2 linked regions of the Homo sapiens genome follow. The protein of the gene in region 2 interacts with the protein of the main gene of each other region in a biochemical or structural test. Each region holds a gene or a part of one and is shown on either strand. Other genes may lie near its edges. The genes, in order: PTPN11 and CSF3R.

The links.
Region 1: the proteins of CSF3R (region 2) and PTPN11 interact in far-western blotting, tested with the Homo sapiens proteins (one study listed by BioGRID).

Annotation. Positions count from the first base shown.
Region 1 is NC_000012.12:112,453,447-112,457,261, forward strand, and holds part of PTPN11 (tyrosine-protein phosphatase non-receptor type 11), read left to right. Parts: intron 1-1,117; coding exon 1,118-1,234; intron 1,235-2,503; coding exon 2,504-2,617; intron 2,618-3,815. UniProt on the Homo sapiens protein: Acts downstream of various receptor and cytoplasmic protein tyrosine kinases to participate in the signal transduction from the cell surface to the nucleus. Positively regulates MAPK signal transduction pathway. Dephosphorylates GAB1, ARHGAP35 and EGFR.
Region 2 is NC_000001.11:36,476,114-36,479,928, forward strand, and holds part of CSF3R (granulocyte colony-stimulating factor receptor isoform a precursor), read right to left. Parts: intron 3,404-3,815; 5' UTR 3,384-3,403; coding exon 3,320-3,383; intron 1-3,319. UniProt on the Homo sapiens protein: Receptor for granulocyte colony-stimulating factor (CSF3), essential for granulocytic maturation. Plays a crucial role in the proliferation, differentiation and survival of cells along the neutrophilic lineage.

The sequences.
Region 1 (3,815 bases), on a different chromosome or scaffold from region 2:
TGACAGAAGACAGACACCATTACATTCAAAGTCAGATTGTCTTTTATTTATTTATTTATTTATTTATTTATTTGAGACAGGGTCTTGCTCTATCACCTACAGATGGGGTTTCACCACGTTGGGTCTGGTGACCCAAATCTTTGGGTGATTTTTCTGCTGGAAGAGGACAAACACCATTACATTCAAAGTCAGATTTTCTGTTTTTTTTTTTTTTTTGTTTTTGTTTTTTTAATATTCATTTGTTTATTCATTTGAGACTGGGTCTTGCTCTGTCACGCAGGCTGGAGTGCAACCTCCCTGGGCTCAGTTGATCTTCCCTCAGCCTCTTGAGTAGCTGGGACTACAGGTGTGTGCCACCATGCCCAGCTAGTGTTTGTATTTTTTGTGGAGATGGTGTTTTGCCGCATTGCCCAGTGTGGTCTTGAACTAGTGCTCAAGAGGCCTGCCTCCTTCAACCTCTCAAAGTGTTAGGATTACAGATGTGAACTACTGTGCCTGATCCAAAGTCAGATTTTCTTTGCTTACTTAGTCAAGTTCGTCTATGCTTTTATTATACTTAATATATTAGTATAGTTACTGTATTAGTATATTAGCATATTTAATATATTATTATACTTATCATACTTGAGTATATTGAGTATATTTACACTTTTAGTATATTTGTATACACACACCACATTTTTATTATTTATCTTTTTTTTGAGACAGAGTCTCCCTCTGTCTCCCAGGCTGAAGCACAGTTGGCTCACTGCAACCTCTGCCTCTTGGGCTCAAGTGATTCTCGTGCCTCACCCTCCTGAGTAGCAGGGATTACAGGTGTCCACCACCAAGCCTGGCTAATTTTTGTATTTTTAGTGGATATGGGGTTTTACCATGTTGGCCAGGCTGGTCTCGAACTCCTGACCTCAAATGATCTGCCCGCCTTGGCCTCCCAAAGTGCTGGAATTACTGGCGTGAGCCACTGCACCCAGCCTATTATCTGTCTTTTGATGGACATTTAAGTTGTCTCTATATACTAGCTATTGTGAATAATGCTGCAGTGAACATGAGAGTGCTTGAAAACACTAATGTAACATAAAGGTAACAAATAATAAATGTCATGTGTTTATCTTGAAAGGAACTGAAATACGACGTTGGTGGAGGAGAACGGTTTGATTCTTTGACAGATCTTGTGGAACATTATAAGAAGAATCCTATGGTGGAAACATTGGGTACAGTACTACAACTCAAGCAGGTGAGCAGATTGGAAAGCTCAAGCTTTCTCCTTAAAAACTTAAAACAAATCCTAATAGAGAATTTTGCAAACATACAGAGGTAGACAGAATAGTATCATCAGCCTCCATGTACCCATTGCAGCTTCAACTATCAAATCTTTTTTTTTTTTTTTTTTTTTGAGACAGTCTTACTCTGTCACCCAGTCTGGAGTACAGTGTTGCAATCTTGGCTCACTACAACCTCTGCTTCCTGGGTTCAAGCGATTCTCCTGCCTCAGCCTCCTGAGTAGCTGGGACTACAGGTGCCCACCACCATGCCCGGCTAGTTTTTGTGTTTTTAATAGAGATGGGGTTTCACCATGTTGGCCTGGCTGGTCTTGAATTCCCGACCTCAGGTTTTCTGCCCGCCTTGGCCTCCCGAAGTTTTGGGATTACAGGCGTGAGCTACCACGCCCGGCCCTAAATCTTTTCTTATTATGATTCCACTCACTGACTGCCGCTATAGTACTTGGAAACATATTCCAGATTTATATTATTCCCATATTTATCTGTAAAAGGCATTACAGAGGTTCTTTTTTTTTTTTTTTTTTTTTGAGATGGAGTTTTGCTCTGTCGCCCAGGCTGGAGTGCAGTGGCGTGTTCTTGGCTCACTGCAACCTCTGCGTCCCGGGTTCAAGAGCTTCTCCTGCCTCAGCCTCCTGAGTAGCTGGGATTATAGGTGGTGCCACTACACCCAGCTAATTTTTGTATTTTTAGTAGAGATGGGGTTTCACCATGTTAGCCAGGCTGGTCTTGAACTCCTGACCTCAAGTGATCTGCCTGCCTCAGCCTCTCAAAGTGCTGGGATTATAGGCATGAGCCACTGCATCTGGCCTAAGGCTGTACAGAGTTTTAAAGCAAGTTTTCATTATAGATCCACTTCTGGTTACCTTTAGGTAACCTCACTTATTCACTTTGGCATTGTTGCTATTTCAAATTTCACCTTTATGATAGTGGAAAATGATATAATCTCTCTAAATAATGTGGTCTATTCATAAAGAAAAATAGGCTTGAATTTATATCAGCAGAGTAAAGTGTATGTGAAGACTGAAGAAAGATACATTTTCTGGCTGAACAGAAAACACGGTGAAACGATTTGAAAACTTTTATTGTGAATTACAGGGTCCTATGAACCCTCTGTCCGTGCCTTTATGAATATCAACATAGACATGTTTTTTTTTTTTTTTTTGCATTAACACCGTTTTCTGTAATATTTTCTTTATTTTACATCAACTGCTGTACTCGATCAGCCCCTTAACACGACTCGTATAAATGCTGCTGAAATAGAAAGCAGAGTTCGAGAACTAAGCAAATTAGCTGAGACCACAGATAAAGTCAAACAAGGCTTTTGGGAAGAATTTGAGGTAAGTTATTAAAAAACTGTTTTTACGTGAGTTGTTATATCCTATTTTTAGTGGAGGAGAAGTTGCTCTTGTGTTTGGAATTGGACCTGAGAGACTTGAAACTGACGTCCTTTTTTAATTCGGCCATTGATTGACACGGAGCAAGTTGCTGAGAGGGCTTCTTCGAAACAGAAGAGCATTGTGTTCTGAGGGAAGGGAGTTGGCAGTGAGTAGTCAATGGATGTGCTAGCCGCTCCATTTGGCTCTTTTGGTTTGGACTGGTGGCAAAATCTCAGAGAAACAAAAGGATCTAATTTCTTCGAAAGATTTCCAGCATGCACTGGGGTCTTTAGAAACAATCTATAGCCTTAGTGCAGCAAATGAGTATGAGTAAAAGAGAAACACCTTGTGGTGGCTTTTTTTTTTTTTTTTTTGAGACAGGGTCTCGCTCTGTCGCCGAAGCTGGAGTGTAGTGGCGTGATCTCGGTTTACTGCAGCCCCGTCCTCCCTGGGCTCAAGTGATCTTCCCATCTCAGCCTACTGAGTAGCTGGGACTACAGGCACATGCCCCTATGCCTGGCTAATTTTTGTATTTTTGGTAGAGATGAGGTTTTGCAGTGTTGCCCAGGCTGGTCTTGAACTCTTGGGCTCAAGTGATCCTCCTACTTAAGCTTCCCGAGTAGCTGGGACTACAGGCACACGATACCATGCCCATCTAATTTTTGTATTTTTTTGTAGAGATGGGGTTTTGCAGTGTTGCCCAGGCTGGTCTTGAACTCTTGGGCTCAAGTGATCCTCCAGCTTTGACGTGCCAAATGTGGTGGCTTTAATTTCAGAGTTCAAATTGATAACTCTGGTAAGTTAAGTGAACTGATTTCTTTTTTTTTTAAATTATTTTTGTTGATTATACTTTAAGTTCTGGGATATATGTGCAGAACGTGCAGGTTTGTACATAGGTATACATGTGCCATCATGGTTTGCTGCACACATTAACCCATCATTTAGGTTTTAAGTCCTGCATGCATTAGGTGTTTGTCCTAATGCTCTCCCTCCCCTTTAATGCATCAGTGAAAAAGTGATGATAGGCTGGGCGTGGTGGCTCACTCCTGTAATCTCAGCACTTTGAGAGGGTGAGGCAGGTGGACCACTTGAATCCAGGAGTTTGCCCCCATCCCCAGACAGTGTGTGTGATGTTCCCCTCCCTGTGTCCATGTGTTCT
Region 2 (3,815 bases):
AAGAACCCATAGCCACAGCAATCTTTTCACAATTCAAATCTGATTCTGCTACCCCATCTCCATCGCAGCACTTCAATGGCACATTATTGCTCTGAAAGGCAGTGTGGTGTGATGGATGAGTGTGGATGTTGGAACTAGACTGCCTAGGTTTAAATTCTGGTTCTATTGCTTATTAATTACATGATCCTGGTATATTTCTAAGACTTCCTGTGCCTCAGTTTTCTCATCTGTAAAATGGGGATAAAAATCGTCCCTACCTTAGTGTTGCTGGAAGGATTACATGCGATAACATATGGAAGGCATTTAGAGCAGTGTCTGGCATGTGAGTATTTGCTGCCATCATTAGGATAAACACTCAAATCCTTCAATAGCTCCTGTGGCCTGGCCCCTGCCTGACCCTCTCAGTTCCAGCTTATACCGGTCTCTCAGCTCCAGCTATTCTGGCTCATTCTTGCTATTCTTTGAAAACTCCAAAATCTTTCTAATCTCTGGATCTTTGTCCCTGCTGTTTTTTTTTTTTTGTTGTTGTTGTTTTGTTTTGGTTTTCTTTTTCTTTTCTTTTTTTTCTTCAAGTTCTTGCTCTGTCACTCAGGCTGGAGTGCAGTGGCACGATCACGGCTCAGTGCACCCTTGACCTCCTAGGCTCAAGTGATCTTCCCACCTCAGCCTCCTGAGTAGCTGGGACTACAGGTTCATGCCAGCACACCTTGCTAATTTTTTGATTTTTTTTTTTTTTGGTAGAGATGGGGTTTCACTATGTTGCCTAGGCTAATCTTGAGCTCCTGGGCTCAAGCAATCCTCCTGCTTCAGCCTCCCAAAGTGCTGGGACTACAGATGTGAACCACTGTGCCCGGCATGCTGTTCTTTTTGGAGGGACTCTTCTTTCTCTCTCCCACCCCTGTTTCACCTGGTTAACGCTTAGGCATCTTGAAGAAACCAGACCAGGCACTAACGAACTGGAGGAGGCCAAGGTCCCTGTACTTCCTCAAAGCTCTTATTATCCTTCATAATTATAGAGTCTTATGATTATTTACTTATCTATCACTCCAGCTAGACTATAAATTCTGTGAGGCCAGCAGACCTTGGCTGTTTGCTTATTACTGTATTCCCAGTGCCTAGTACAGAGTAGGACCTTGGTGAATATTTATTATTATTATTATTTTGAGAAGGAGTTTCGCTCTGTCACCCAGGCTGGAGTGCTGTGGCACAATCTCGGCTCACTGCAACCTCCGCCTCCCAGGTTCAAGCGATTCTCCTGCCTCAGCCTCCCGAAAAGCTGGGGCTACAGGCACGCACCACCATGCCCGGCTAATTTTTTTTTGTATTTTTAGTAGAGATGGGTTTTCACCATGCTGGCAGGCTGGTCTCGATCTCCTGACCTCGTGATCCACCCGCCTCAGCCTCCCAAAGTGCTAGGATGACAGGCATGAGCCACTGCGCCCGGCCGATGAATTTTTTTTGATAAATAAATAAACAAACAAATCAACATACACTTTGCCCGCAATGCTTTCTGTCCTCTCTCAGGTGTTCTTAGGCCCGTTTTACTGATGGGGATGCGAAGGCCCTAAGAGGAGAAGCAGTTTGCCCAGGGTCACAGAGCAAGTTCATGATTCTCAACAAAGGGCTTCTACTGCTTCACAGGCTCAGGATTTCTTTTTTTTTTTTGAGACGGAGTCACTCTGCTGCCCAGGCTGGAGTGCAGTGGCGTGATCTCGGCTTACTGCAAGCGCCGCCTGCTGGGCTCACGCCATTGTCCTGCCTCAGCCTCCCGAGTAGCTAGGACTACAGGCACCCGGCACCATGCCCGGCTAATTTTTTGTATTTTTAGTAGATACAGGGTTTCACTGTGTTCACCAGGATGGTCTCGATCTCCTGACCTTGTGATCCACCCGCCTAGGCCTCCCAAAGTGCTGGGATTACAGGCGTGAGCCACCGCGCCCGGCCCAGACTCAGGATTTCAGGCTGGAAGAAACTTTACAAGGTTGTTTGCTTCAAAACTCTACCTGATGCTCTGCCCTCTACAGCAGGGCTTGAGTGGCCTATTTTTGTATAGCCTAACAACTAAAGATGTTTCTTACATTTTAAAAGAGTTAAAAACAAGCAAAGCAAAAACCAAATAAAAACATGCCACAGGGCTGGGCGCGGTGGTTCATGCCTGTAATCCCAGCACTTTGGGAGGCCGAGGTGAGTGGATCACCTGACGTCAGGAGTTTGAGACCAGCCTGGCCAACATGGTGAAACCCCATCTCTAGTAAAAATACAAAAATTTGCAGGGCCTGGTGGCAGGTGCCTGTAATCCCAGCTATTCGGGAGGCTGAGGCAGGAGAATCGCTTGAACCCGGCAGGCGGAGGTTGCAGTGAGCTGAGATCCCGCTACTGTACTTCAGCCTGGGCAAGAGAGTGAGACTCCATCTCAAAAAACAAAAAAACAAAAACCAAAAAACATGCAATAGGCAGGGCGTGGCGGGTCATGCTTGTAATCCCCATACTTTGGGAGGTCAGGGCAGGTGGATTGCTGGAACCCAGGAGTTTGAGACCAGCCTGGGCAACATGGCAAAACTACATCTCTACAAAAAAATACAACAACAAAAAAAAATTAGCTGGGTGTGGTGGCATGCCCTGCACTACCTTGGAGGCTGAGGCGGGAGGATCACTTGAGCCCAGGAGGTTGAGGCTGCAGTGAGCTGCGATTGTGCCACTGCACTCCAGCCTGGGCAACAGAGGGAGACCCTGTCTCACAAACGAACAAACAAACAAACAAACAAACAAACAAGGAACAGAGACAGTATGTGGCCTGCAAAGCCTAAACATTACTGTCAGAAAAAGTTTGCCAACCCCTGCTGCACAGCATCTTTATCAATCCTGGCTTTAGCTTGCATACCCCTGGGGATGGGAAGTTCTCTACCTCTCAAGACAGAGTTTCCATGGTTGGAAACCAAGCTCTGCCTGGGCTTCTTTATTTCAGGATGAAACCTGTCCCCTTGTAGCTTCCATCCTGATCCCTTTGCTGCCCACCAAGGCTGCATAGGACCCATGGGTTGCTTCTGACAGCTTGGTAGAGATTTGCGGACAAGATCTGCGCCTCACTGGCCTTTTCCAGGATGACCAGCCCGGGTCGTCTCACCATTCCTCTTGGGTGGTGGTTTGCCTGTGGAAGTCTGTGGGTGGGAGACCAGCTACCCCACATCTGTGGCTCAGACTTGAATCTTGTGGGATTCTCTGGGAATCCCAGGAGCCATGTGGCAGTGCAAGGAAATTCCCAATATCTCTCCTTGTAGCTTCCCCTCCCCACTGCACCCTCATCCTTGGCCATACTCACTTCCGGGGAGCAGCAGGATGATCAGGGCAGCCCAAGTCAGGCTGCAGTTTCCCAGCCTTGCCATAGCACCAACTTGATGTTCACCTGTAGGCAGAAGGGTTGTTTAAGACCATGGGCTTTGGAGTCAGAGCTGATCTTAATCCTTGTCTGTCACTGTGCAGCTTTGACTAGGTTGCTTGACTTCTCTGAGCCTTCGTTTCTTTGCAAAATGGAAGTAACAGCAGCCTATACTGCATGGGACTTTGAGAGGAAGACACAAAATGATGCAAGTCAAGGGCTTTTCACAGTGCCTGGAACATAGGAAATGACAGTGACAGCCACAGTTATTATACTTGCCTTCCAGGAAAGAGCAGGGAAAGGAGCAGTGAGGAAGAGCATTCTTCCGCCTTCCCAGCTATCTAAGCTAGGCTACCCCTAGAGAGCAGAACCTGAGATGAGGAATTGCATGCTGGTAGTTTATTTTGAGAAGATCCTAGCAGCAGATAAGGGACTGGGG